Linked DNA regions of Homo sapiens. The protein of the gene in region 2 interacts with the protein of the main gene of each other region in a biochemical or structural test. Each region holds a gene or a part of one and is shown on either strand. Other genes may lie near its edges.

Region 1 (3,748 bases), on a different chromosome or scaffold from region 2:
GATACTGGAATTGACAGAATTGACCAGGGTCTGCACAATGGCATGGTTGGTTGAGTTGAGGTGGTCAGCCAGTGGAAAGGGGCAGTCCCCATGGCAGTAGAAGGCCTGGTAGCCTGGTGGGGCCACAATCCAGTCATTCCAGCCCACATCGCTGAAGTCCACATAGAGCGAGTGGCGCCGGCAGTTCTTATTCTTCTTCCTGGCCCGCTGTGAGTGATGCTTAGGGCTACGCTTGGCCCTCCGGCGTCGGGTCAAGGCATGGCCCCGGCCATCATGGCCAAAGGTGACCAGGAGGGGCCGGAGCTGGGCCCAATTCCCACTCCCTTGAGGTAACGATCGGCTAATCCTGACATGCTGGCCCTGGTGGGTCCGAGTCTGATGGAGGTGAGTCACCTCAATGGCTAGCCCATAGTTTGGCTGCTTCTCCCGGGTCCAGCGAAGGACCGCAGGGCTCACATCAAAAGTTTCCCACCGTGTCACATTGTGGTGGACCAGTCTCGTGTCCAGTAGTCGTGTGATGAGGTGCCCAGGCACCACTTCTGCTGGGGGCTTCATAACCTCATAAATGTTTATACGGTGGAAGCCCCTTTCCCAATCAGGGCCCTGGTCCACCTGCTCCCGGAAGAGCCGAAGCTCTGCAGAGGAGATCACCTCGTTCTCAGGGATGCTGCTGAGGTTAAAGAGGAAACGAAAAGCAGAGTTTTCACTGGTCCCTGGGATGTTCTCCAGATGTTCTAGGCACAGTTAGGAAGGAAGGGGAAAAGAAAAAGCATATGAACTTTTTTCAAAGATGGAAGAGTCAAGAGATAGCTCAGGGTTGGGCAATGAATGGTGAATTCTGCTTATGCAGGGGAAACCTACTGGGGGAAAATAAGCATACCCCTTAATTTGAAGGAGCAGATAAGTGGGGCAGCTAACAAACCAGCAAAATGTAGCTAGCATTTCTCAAGCACCAAAGACAGAAACTATATCCAGCCTCCTTGATATGTCTAATAATTTCTATGTGTCAACTCCTCTATGGCACCACAATCAGACTCCTCTTTTAAACCCCCCACCTTGGCTTTGTGTCCACAGTTTTCTTTACAAGTGGTTGTAAAGAAAAAGAGGGGCCAACAGAGCACAGGCAGGAGGAAACATGCAGACAACCACCCTCTCCCTCTTCCACTATTGAGTATGTTACTAAACATTTCCCCAGCGATCTTGGAAACACAGAGCATGCCTTGTTGATCATGTTACAGAGGGGAAAATAAATTCCAACACAGTAATGATGCTGGTGGATTAATAACTCAGATTTACTTTGGAAAAGAAACATCCGCTAGGAAACATTCAGATCGGATTACAAGGCCCCTATTGAATAAACCCGACAAACACACAGCTGTAATATTAAATTCAGTAGGTGCTTTGAAAAAAACGGGCAGAAAACCTAGCAGAAAAGGCTTTGATATAGCAAAAACACACCGCTGGGGCTAGCCCACGTCTGAGTGCTGTCATTCCCCTTCCCCTGAACACCTCCCCCTCTGTCTCCAAAAAATAAGTTCGGCGGCAGCTCTGCAAATTCTTGGAGGTAAGCAGCTCTGTTCCTCAGCCTCCTGGACTGGGGCTTTGATGTAACCCGAACTCTTCTTCCCCAGGGCTTTCACTGCCCCTCTAGCCAGTCCCACCAGCCCTCCCCCACGCAGACTGGGGGAAGAGACTGACCTTCGTGGTGGAAGCTCCTCACGGTGTTGGCCCGGCTGGCCGGGCGCTCAGGATACTCAAGACCAGTGCTGTGGATCTGCTCTTCCTCCTCCTCCCCAGACTGAAGCCGGTAAAGATCCCGCATGTAGTCCGGAATGACGGCACTCTTGCTAGGCTGCGGGCGGCGGCGCAGCCCAAACATCTGCAGAAGTGTCGCCTCGAAGTCCCGCAGGAGCTCATGGCTCTGCCCTGAGCGGCGTCCTCCCGCGTGGCCCTGAATCTCGGCGACTTTTTTCTTCCCCGTCTCAGGTATCAAACTAGCATGGCTCGCGCCTCCTAGCAGGACTTGGCATAATAAAACGACCATCAGCATTCGGTTACCAGGAATCATGGTGTCTCTGGGGAGGGGGAGGGGAGTGGAAGGTTAAAGAATAAATAAACACCAATAAATAGGGAGAAATAGAGATGTGTCTGCATATGCATTTAGGGCTAGAAATGGAGGGGCAAGATGGAAAGCAGGTCAGAAAGATCAAGTTTGTGTCTTCTCCCTCACACCACCCGCCCACCCACCAGCTGCAGCCATGCACGGCCTGAAAGTAAGAATTGCCCTGTAATTACTTGGTCTAACTTGTTTACAGTCAAATAACCCCAAATCAGATAGCCTCCATCCTGTTAATCTTTTTTTGTCCTAACTGCTATCTGGGCCATGATCTCAGCGTGGCTTCTTGAAGGATAAACAGTTAACATTGAGGGGGTGAAAAGGGGTGGGGGAGGGAGAATTAAAATGGCATTGCTCTCCACTTTAGACCTTCAGCTTCTCTCCCTTTTCCTCCACCCTCAGAGCCCAACTTTCACAACTTCCAGTTGGTTCAGAGCCAGAGGGAGGGAAAGTGAGAGGCAGGGGCTGGGCGAAGACAGAGGGCGACAGGGTCCAGAAGCCGAGAAGGTGGTCTGGGAGCTAACCGGGTGGCTTGAGGGCTTATTTTATTGTGGCCGATGAGTTTGAAATATTCAGCCAAAAGTGCCTGATCGTGCCCGCTCATCCCCAGGGAAGGGGTGAGAGACGATTCCGGAGAGACCTCTGTGAGTTTTGACAAGAGAGTGGGAACGCGCCACGGAGACACTGGGGGCTCTCCCAGACAAGTTGGATAGGGGAAGGGAGTGGTTAGCCCTCAAGGTACAACCCCGGGCTTTCATCTCTTTAGCTCCCTCGCGCTCCCCTTTCTTGCAACGCTGAGAGGGCGAGTGCGCGCTAGCAGCACTTTAAAAGGAACCCGTACGCTTCCAGCGCCCCGGCTGCCGGGCCAAGAAGGGAGCGACAGTGCTGCCAGGGAGCAGAGTGTGGATATTGTAAAGGAGGTCCGACGGAAGGGACAGCCGGCGAGCAGGGGTGGTGAGGGCAGAGTGAATTCCGGGGAGGGGGAAGGAAGAGGTGTCTACTCACTGACAGAAAACAAGGCATATAATAACAGTCCATGATTCTTGACAGCCAATCTTGAACAAACTTGCTGGAAAGGCTCAGGGAAGCTGCAGCAGTGCGTTGCTCGGGATGGCACTACGGAATGGCTCCTAAAAGGAATATTTGAATATAATGAGACTCCACCGCAGACAGGCTCTGTTTTTCTTCCAGCCCCTCGGAGTCACGTGAGCGCCGAGGCCCCTCCCGCGGCAGGCGGCGAAAGGGCTTGCGCGCCCTCCCCTCCTCCACAGCCCCCCGCCCCTCGCGGGCCCGCCCCTCCAGGCGAGGCCAACCTCCGCGCCCGCCGCCCGAGCCTCAGCGGTCCGGGAGGAGCTCCCGGCGGCGCTCGGCAGAGCCCTCGGCCGGTGCCCCGCGGCCGCCGCGCTCCCAGGGCTACTGGCGCAGCGCACGGAGAACCCGGTTCTCGGCGCGGTGCGTCGTGCTGGGCCCCCGCGCCGGGCCACCTGAAGCCAGAGGATTTGGGGCGCACTGAAGGGACTGCGTCTCCCAGCTCGAACCCGGCTTAAGTGGGGCCGGGAGCGAGGTCGGGAAAGTCTCACCCGCCCAAAGCCTCACCACCGAGAGGCACTTAAAAAGGAAAGCGCAGAGGGA
Region 2 (3,748 bases):
TCTTCAGTGGTAAAGAATACTTTCACCGCCACTTTTTCGCCACGCCATTTGCCCATCCATACTTCTCCATATCGGCCTTTACCAACTTGCCGGACCATCTGAATCTGTTTGGCAATAGTTCGCTGAACCTTTATAGAAAAAAGTAAAAGGTTTGAGCTCTTGATGAAAGAAACCCATTAAGACTGGCAAAGGGGTAGTCCATCTCATCAAAAAGCATGGTGTACCCAACCAACTCCAGTTAAAAACTTATAATGTACTTTTTTTTTTTTGAGATGGAGTCTCGCTCTGTCACCCAGGATGGAGTGCAGTGGCGCGATCTCGGCTCACTGCAACCTTCACCTTTTAGATTCAAGTGATTCTCCTGCCTCAGCCTCCCAAGTAGCTGGGATTACAGACACCCGCCACCATGCCCAGCTAATTTTTTTGTATTTTTAGTAGAGATGGGGTTTAGCCACGTTGACCAGGCTGGTCTTGAACTCCTGACCTCAGGTGATCCACCCCACCCCCGGCCTCCCATAATGCTGGGATTACAGGCGTGAGCCACCATGCCCGGCCATAATGTACTTTAAAGTATGAAACAATGTACAATGTATTCTGAAATCATAAACAGGTTATTCAAGTGGCTGGCTGTTTGCAAAAATGGTCATAATAATTACCCTCCCAGTGCACACAGTCGTGGGTAGTCTTGGTCCACAGACTCAGGGCTTAGGCCACATGACTTGCTTTGGATAAAAGAACAACAGCGAACGTGATGCAAGCAAAGACCTGACAAATGTTTGTGGACTGGGGCTTGCCCCCTTCCTGCTGCTTTGGGAACCCTGTGACCAAAAAATAATGGCAGCATGAACTGTCGGCCAAGGGTGTGAACTACACCACCTAGCTCTAGCTAAGCAAGTCCAACAAATGAACTGCCCCACAGACTCACAGAATGAGAAATAATGTTTGTTGCTTCACATCACTAAGTTTTGGGGTGGTTTATTATGCAGCAAAGTCCAAATAACAGTTAAAGATCTTAAAAATCCCATCTATAAGACCCTGCCTGATCTGGCCTGGTCCCATTATTTGCTTTGACCACCCACCCACAAACCTCGTTTGACTTATCTCAACTTTTAGAATTCACTCAAGCTTATTCCTGTCGCTGGGTTTTTTTGAATATCCAGTTCCCTTTACTTAGAGTGCTATTTTCTCACTTAAACACCTTCATAGCACACAAAACCTCTCAGTTGCTGCGCTTAACACAATCATAACTTTATTCTTATTTACATATATATTTGCTTGAATTCCATCCCCTGCTCACAGAATATAAGTATTTATTTGGGACAATATCAGAAGTACTTTAATATTTGTTAAATAAAAGATGTACATGGATTGTTATCTTTCATTTTCAGAAGCATTAGTGATCATTCTAAATTAAAAAGAACATTATGCTCCAAGTTGGAAATGCTTCTAAAATGGACTAGATTTAGTGCAAAGCTAAAGTGACTTTATGTATCATTTATTATAGAATCCTTTTGTAAATTTTGTTCTGTTTTTTTGAGACAGAGTCTCGCTCCGTTGCTCAGGCTGGAGTGCGGCGGCCAATCTCAGCTCACTGCAACTTCTGCCTCCCCAGTTAAAACAATTTCCTGCCTCAGCCTCCCGAGCAGCTGGGATTACAGGCATCTGCCACCACGTCCAGCTAATTTTTGTATTTTTAGTAGAGACAGGGTTTCACCATGTTGGCCAGACTGGTCTCGAACACCTGACCTCAAGTGATCTGCCTGCCTCAGCCTGTAAGTTTTTAAGTCAAGATTATTGAGGTATAATTTATATAAAATGTACCCTTTTTGAGAAAAGTTCAACAAGCCTTGGACAAATCTATATCATGTAATCACCAATACCACAATTAAGATACAGAATATTTTAATAACGTAAAAAAATTCTCACTTTTTGGCCAGGCGTGGTGGCTCACGCCTGTAATCCCAACACTTTGGGAGGCCGAGGCGGGTGGATCACCTGAGGTCAGGAGTTCAAGACCAGCCTGGCCAACATGGTGAAACCCTGTCTCTACTTAAAAAAAAATACAAAAATTAGCTGGGCATGGTGGTGCATGCCTTAATCCCAGCTACTTGGGAGGCTGAGGCAGGAGAATCACTTTTGTGTAGCCTTTTGTGTCTGGCTTCTTTCATGTAGCATAAAGTACTTTTGAAATTCACCCACTGTTGCTGCTACATGTGTTAGAAGTTGTTCCTTTTTACTGATGAGTAATATTCCACTGTATGAATGTACCAGCATTTGTTTATTCATTTAGCAATTCATGAGCTTTGGGGTTGTTTCCAGTTTATGTCTATTATAAATAAAACTGCTATAAACATTCACATTCAGGCCTCTGGTGTGGACAAGTTTTCATATCTCTTGGGTAAATAATTAGCAGAAGGATTGCTTCATTGTACGGAAAGTATGCCCTTAACTTTCCAGGCAATTGTCAAACTATTTTTCAAAATAGCCATACCATTTTGCATTCCAACCAGCAATGTATGAGATTTCTAGTTGATCTACATCTTTGGCACCACTTAATATTATCAGTCTTAGCTATACTAGTGGATGTGCAGTAGTATCTTACTGTGTTTAATTTGTATATCCCTGCTGATGCTGAGCATCTTTTCATGTGCTTGTTTGCCATTCTTATATCTTCTTTGGGGAAGTGTCTGTTCAAATCTTTTGTCCATTTTTTAAAAAAATTGGGTTATCTTATTATTGAGTTGCAAAAGGTCTTTATATATTTTGCACAAAAACCCTGTATCAGATCTGTTTTGCCAATCTGTGACTTGTCTTCTCATTTTCTTGTCTTCTAAATAGCAGAAGTTTTAAATTTTGATAAAGCCTGATTTATCATTAAAAAAATGATTTGTGTTTTTTATGTACTGAAGAAGTCTGCCCAAGGTCAGAATAATTTTTTCAGACATTTTCTTTTAGAGGTTTTATACTTCAACTTTTACATTTAGGTCTATGCTACATTTCAAGTTAATTTGGTATAGAGTGAGGAGGTAAGGACTGAGATTAACTTCTTGGTAAATGGATTCCTGATATTTCCTGCACCATCTGTTAAATGGACTGCCTTTTTCCAATTGAATTACTTGGGCATCTTTTTGTTTTTTTTTTTTTAATCAATTAACCATATTAAGTGCATGTTCCTTTCTAAACTCCATAATCTGTTCCATTCATCAATACATCTATCCTTATGCCAGTACCAAATTGAGATCATTATTGAGTTTTACGGTAAGTCCAGAAATCAGGTAGTGATTCCTCTTTGTTCTTCTACTTCAAAATTGTTTTGGCTCTTCTAGTCCTTTGCATTTCCATATAAATGTTAGAATATACATCAATTGCTATAAAAGTTTGCTCTGATTTTCATTTGGATTCGAATGAAATTACACACCAATTTGAGGAAAACTGAAATCTTAATACTGAGTCCTCAGATTTATAAACATCTCCACTTATTTAGGGCTTTATTAATTTCTTTCAGCAATGTTTTATAATTTTCAGTGTGCAGGTCTTGCATAAATTGTTAGGCTTATTCTAAATATTTCATGGTTTTTGATGCTATTTTAAATACTGTTTTTATAATTACCTAATTGTTTGTTGCTAGAGCCTATAAATTCAATGGTATTTGTACAATGACTCTGTATTCTGCAACCTGATAAAGTCATTTACTGGCTGCAGTAGTTTTATTGTACCATTCTTGGGATTTTCTACGTAAACAATCATG
Region 3 (3,748 bases), on a different chromosome or scaffold from region 2:
GACCAAGGGGAGAGCAGCCAAGCTCAATAGCCCAGTGATTAAGAGCCCAGACTCTGGAGTAGTGTGACCCTGGGCCTCACTTTCCCTATCTGTAAAATAGGAATAATACAGCACTTATTTCAGGATTGCTGTGAAGATTAAGTAAAATAATATTGGCGAAGGGCTTCAAACCATGACTGACACACAAGTTCTCTGTGGGTGCTTGCCATTACCTGGAGGAGGCCAGTGTCCAGGGTGGAGGGCATATCCCAGACCTTAAGGAAGTTAAAGGATGAGGGGAGCAGCGCAGCAAAACTCCCTCCCCCTGCAGGCTGTCATGTGAGTGGTCCCTGCAGGACAGAAGAGGTGATGAAAAAGCAAAAGGAAGAAGGGGTTAGAAAGTGAGAGGGAGGAGATTGGAGAGACTGGGAACACACACAGAAAGTAGCATGGCGGAGAAAGAAGCCACCTGAGATCAAGTGAAACCATAAAGAGAAGAAAAAAGCCAGAACTGAAATAGAGAAGTTGGGCCAGGAATGACTGTCTATGCTGTAGTGGGAAGAATCTTGGGCTTGGGGTGGGAGCCTGGGTTCTGTCCCTTGCTGCATAACCTCTTGGCAGAGTGGCCTTGGAAAAGTCACTTATTTCCATTGAGTCTTTTTTTTTTCCATCCGTGAAGGTGAAAATAGTCAACGCCAACCTCACAAAGCTGTTGGCACGATTAAAGGAGGGTACTTTATGGTTGGTGCCTGAGCACCCAATCAGTACTGAGGGAAACTCTTCTGCCCATAGCAGTCCAGGGCAGAGCACTGTGGCAGACAGAAGCAGCGCTACGCCGCATCGCCTTTCAGCGTGCAGGCCCAGGAATGAGCGAGGCAGTGGGCGGGGAAGACAGGCACGGGGAATCTGGGGACAGATAAAGGAAACTCGTGATGGGGCGAGGCTGGGCTGAAGAGAAACAGATTGGGGTAGAGCTGCAAAGGGAGGGGTCCACTGGAAGGCGAGGGGGGAGGCCGGGAAGAGAGAGGGTGGGAAGGCAGTGTGAGATGGGAGGGCAGTGTGAGAAGAAAAGCAGGCTGGGGAAGAGGGATTGGAATGCAGAAGGAACTTGGGGAAGGAGGAAGTCCTGCAGGCGGGAGGGAAAGAAGAGAGGGAAAATGGGGATGCAGTGGAGGCGGGGGGCAGGCCGCGAGAGGGAGAGGATCCCGGGAGCAGACGAAGAAGTGGAGCAGCTAAAGTCTGCGTCAGAAGAGGTTGGGGACTGCGAGAGGAGAGGCTGGGGCCTGCAGGGGAGCGCAGCAGCTTTTAGCATCGATCCAAACTCTAAAGACTCGTGGCCTTTGCCTGACCTCGAGGGTCGGGAATAGACGCCTGTCTTTGTGGAGAGCGATACCCAACCGAGAAAATGGGGCTGTTCCGAGCTGGGCCCTGCGCCTGGCCCAGGGCGAGGCTTCTCTGGCTCCGGGCTGGCCCCTGAGGGGCGCAAACGGCAGGCCTGGCGGTTGGGGCCGAGGAGGGAGGGTACCACCGCCCCGAGGCAGCACGCAGCCTGCAGCAGAGGCGCCTGCTCCAAGCTGTCTCTTGGGGGCGCCGCCGCCGCTTCCCTCCTCCGGGGCCGCTCGCTCCCAGGAAAGTGGAGGCGGCTGGCGAGGACCGAGAGCCGGGGCCGCGCTGCGGAGGGACCACACCTCCGGGAGTTCGAGGGGGACCCTGGCGCGGCGGGCCAGCCTTTGCTCCCCGGCCACGGGCCGGCAGCGCCCGCCTTCCCCCGGTCAGCGCTTGCGGCCCGCGCCGCGCGCACCGCCCGGCAACCCCGCGCGCGTCCCGCGGGGGCGCTGCGTCTTCCTGCCACACCGGCGCACCGCGGCCCCTCTCCCCCACACCTCCGGCCCGCACCACCCGGCTCTCCTCCCACCCTCCCCACCCCTCCTCTGCCCTCCCTCCCCATTCCTCCCCTCCCGGCGAGGGGCGGGAGGGGGCGTGGCGGGGCCGGGGTTTGTGTGGCTGGGACCCGGCTCCTCGCACTCCGAGTCCGCCCGAGGAGCCGGGCCCCGGCCGCTGTCCAGCCGCTCCGTGCCCCGCGCGTCCTGCGCCGCCGCCACCGCCTCCTGGGGAGACGCAGCCACTTGCCCGCCATGGATACTCCCAGGGTCCTGCTCTCGGCCGTCTTCCTCATCAGTTTTCTGTGGGATTTGCCCGGTTTCCAGCAGGCTTCCATCTCATCCTCCTCGTCGTCCGCCGAGCTGGGTTCCACCAAGGGCATGCGAAGCCGCAAGGAAGGCAAGATGCAGCGGGCGCCGCGCGACAGTGACGCGGGCCGGGAGGGCCAGGAACCACAGCCGCGGCCTCAGGACGAACCCCGGGCTCAGCAGCCCCGGGCGCAGGAGCCGCCAGGCAGGGGTCCGCGCGTGGTGCCCCACGAGTACATGCTGTCAATCTACAGGACTTACTCCATCGCTGAGAAGCTGGGCATCAATGCCAGCTTTTTCCAGTCTTCCAAGTCGGCTAATACGATCACCAGCTTTGTAGACAGGGGACTAGGTAAGTGGCAAAGAAAACGCTCGACTCCCCTCCCGCTGGAGCTCGGCAGCCAGGGAGCTGTTCCCGCTGGAGGCTACATTTGTGAATTCCCTTCCTGCTCTGGACACTTCCTTTTTACTTTTCTTAAATTGTTTTTCTCAAGCTCGAGTAAGTTTCTGAATGTGGCTGCGGATTCTATTCCAGTCTCTAAACCTCCCTTCCTTTCCCCCCCTTTCTTTCTCTCTCCCTTCTTTCCTTCTTCCTCTTTTGCAGAAGGCAGCGTGGTTGCCGCTTGTTGGTGGCTGGTGGGGGAAACGTGGAGGACGGGAGGCAGCAGGCGGATGAACCCGGCTGGAGAGGGGTCGGGATGGGGACTGATGGAATCGGTGTCTCGGGATACTGGGTTCGCAGTCCAAGGCCTGAGCTGCTGGGGCAGATCTAGGGCATGAGACAGCCTTGGAAAGCCCTGGGCAAAGCCGGCACTAGGGAGTCCCACAGTCTGAGGAACTAGTCCGCGAGCGGCGTCGGGCAGCCCCCTGGTCCTGGCGCCGCGCGGGTTTTCCGTTGGTCCCTGCGCTGGGTGGGATGGTCAGCCGGGCTGGAGCCCTGCGCCCTCCGGCTTTTTTGCTCCAGCGTGGTGCTCCCGGCTGCTCCGAGGCCTCAACACGAGTGGTTTCTGCAGATGCGGCGGCAGCAGTTGGGCGGGCCGGGACAGGGACGGCTAAGTTCGGAGGTTGTGGGTACTTAATACACAAAGGTACATGGGTATGCCCATCCACCTTTCTCAGCCAGGCGACGTTCCTCTCTCTACGCTATTCCTGAGGGCTGGTGGGGGTCTGGGAAATCCCTGGTACCCTCTGTGGGAACGCCTGCATGTGTGGGTGTCTGCGGAAACCCTTGCGGCCCCTTCTTGCCACCGGCGTTGATCTGCAGCGTGGCCAGTGCCCTCAAGAAAACCTCGCACCACCTCTGGTCCCAGAAATCAGGGAAGGATCCACAGGCATCGGAAACTAAGCTCCTAAAGGAGAGAGACAATAATGTGGAAGGAGACAGGAAAGGAAGGGAGAAAAAGGAAAGGAAGAGTAAAGAGAAGGAAGGAAGAAAATGACGGGATAAAAGCGATTTAGGCAGATATCCACTCCTCCATCCTCCCTAGACTTAGCTCCATGACTTTGACCTGCTCCCAGTTAAGTGGGGTTGCCCGGAAACCTTGCAGCGCTGGGGTTCGGGATTCGGAAGCTGCTTCAGC

What was found.
Region 1: the proteins of BMPR1A (region 2) and BMP4 form a complex in vitro, tested with the Homo sapiens proteins (3 studies listed by BioGRID and IntAct, with this or other methods).
Region 3: the proteins of BMPR1A (region 2) and GDF6 form a complex in vitro, tested with the Homo sapiens proteins (one study listed by BioGRID).

What each region holds. Positions count from the first base shown.
Region 1 is NC_000014.9:53,950,155-53,953,902, forward strand, and holds part of BMP4 (bone morphogenetic protein 4 isoform a preproprotein), read right to left. Parts: intron 3,247-3,748; coding exon of another isoform or gene 3,122-3,246; intron 2,076-3,121; 5' UTR 2,069-2,075; coding exon 1,699-2,068; intron 735-1,698; coding exon 1-734.
Region 2 is NC_000010.11:86,913,514-86,917,261, reverse strand, and holds part of BMPR1A (bone morphogenetic protein receptor type-1A isoform 3 precursor), read right to left. Parts: intron 129-3,748; coding exon 1-128. UniProt on the Homo sapiens protein: On ligand binding, forms a receptor complex consisting of two type II and two type I transmembrane serine/threonine kinases.
Region 3 is NC_000008.11:96,159,059-96,162,806, reverse strand, and holds the start of GDF6 (growth/differentiation factor 6 preproprotein), read left to right. Parts: upstream 1-2,000; 5' UTR 2,001-2,114; coding exon 2,115-2,520; intron 2,521-3,748. UniProt on the Homo sapiens protein: Growth factor that controls proliferation and cellular differentiation in the retina and bone formation. Plays a key role in regulating apoptosis during retinal development.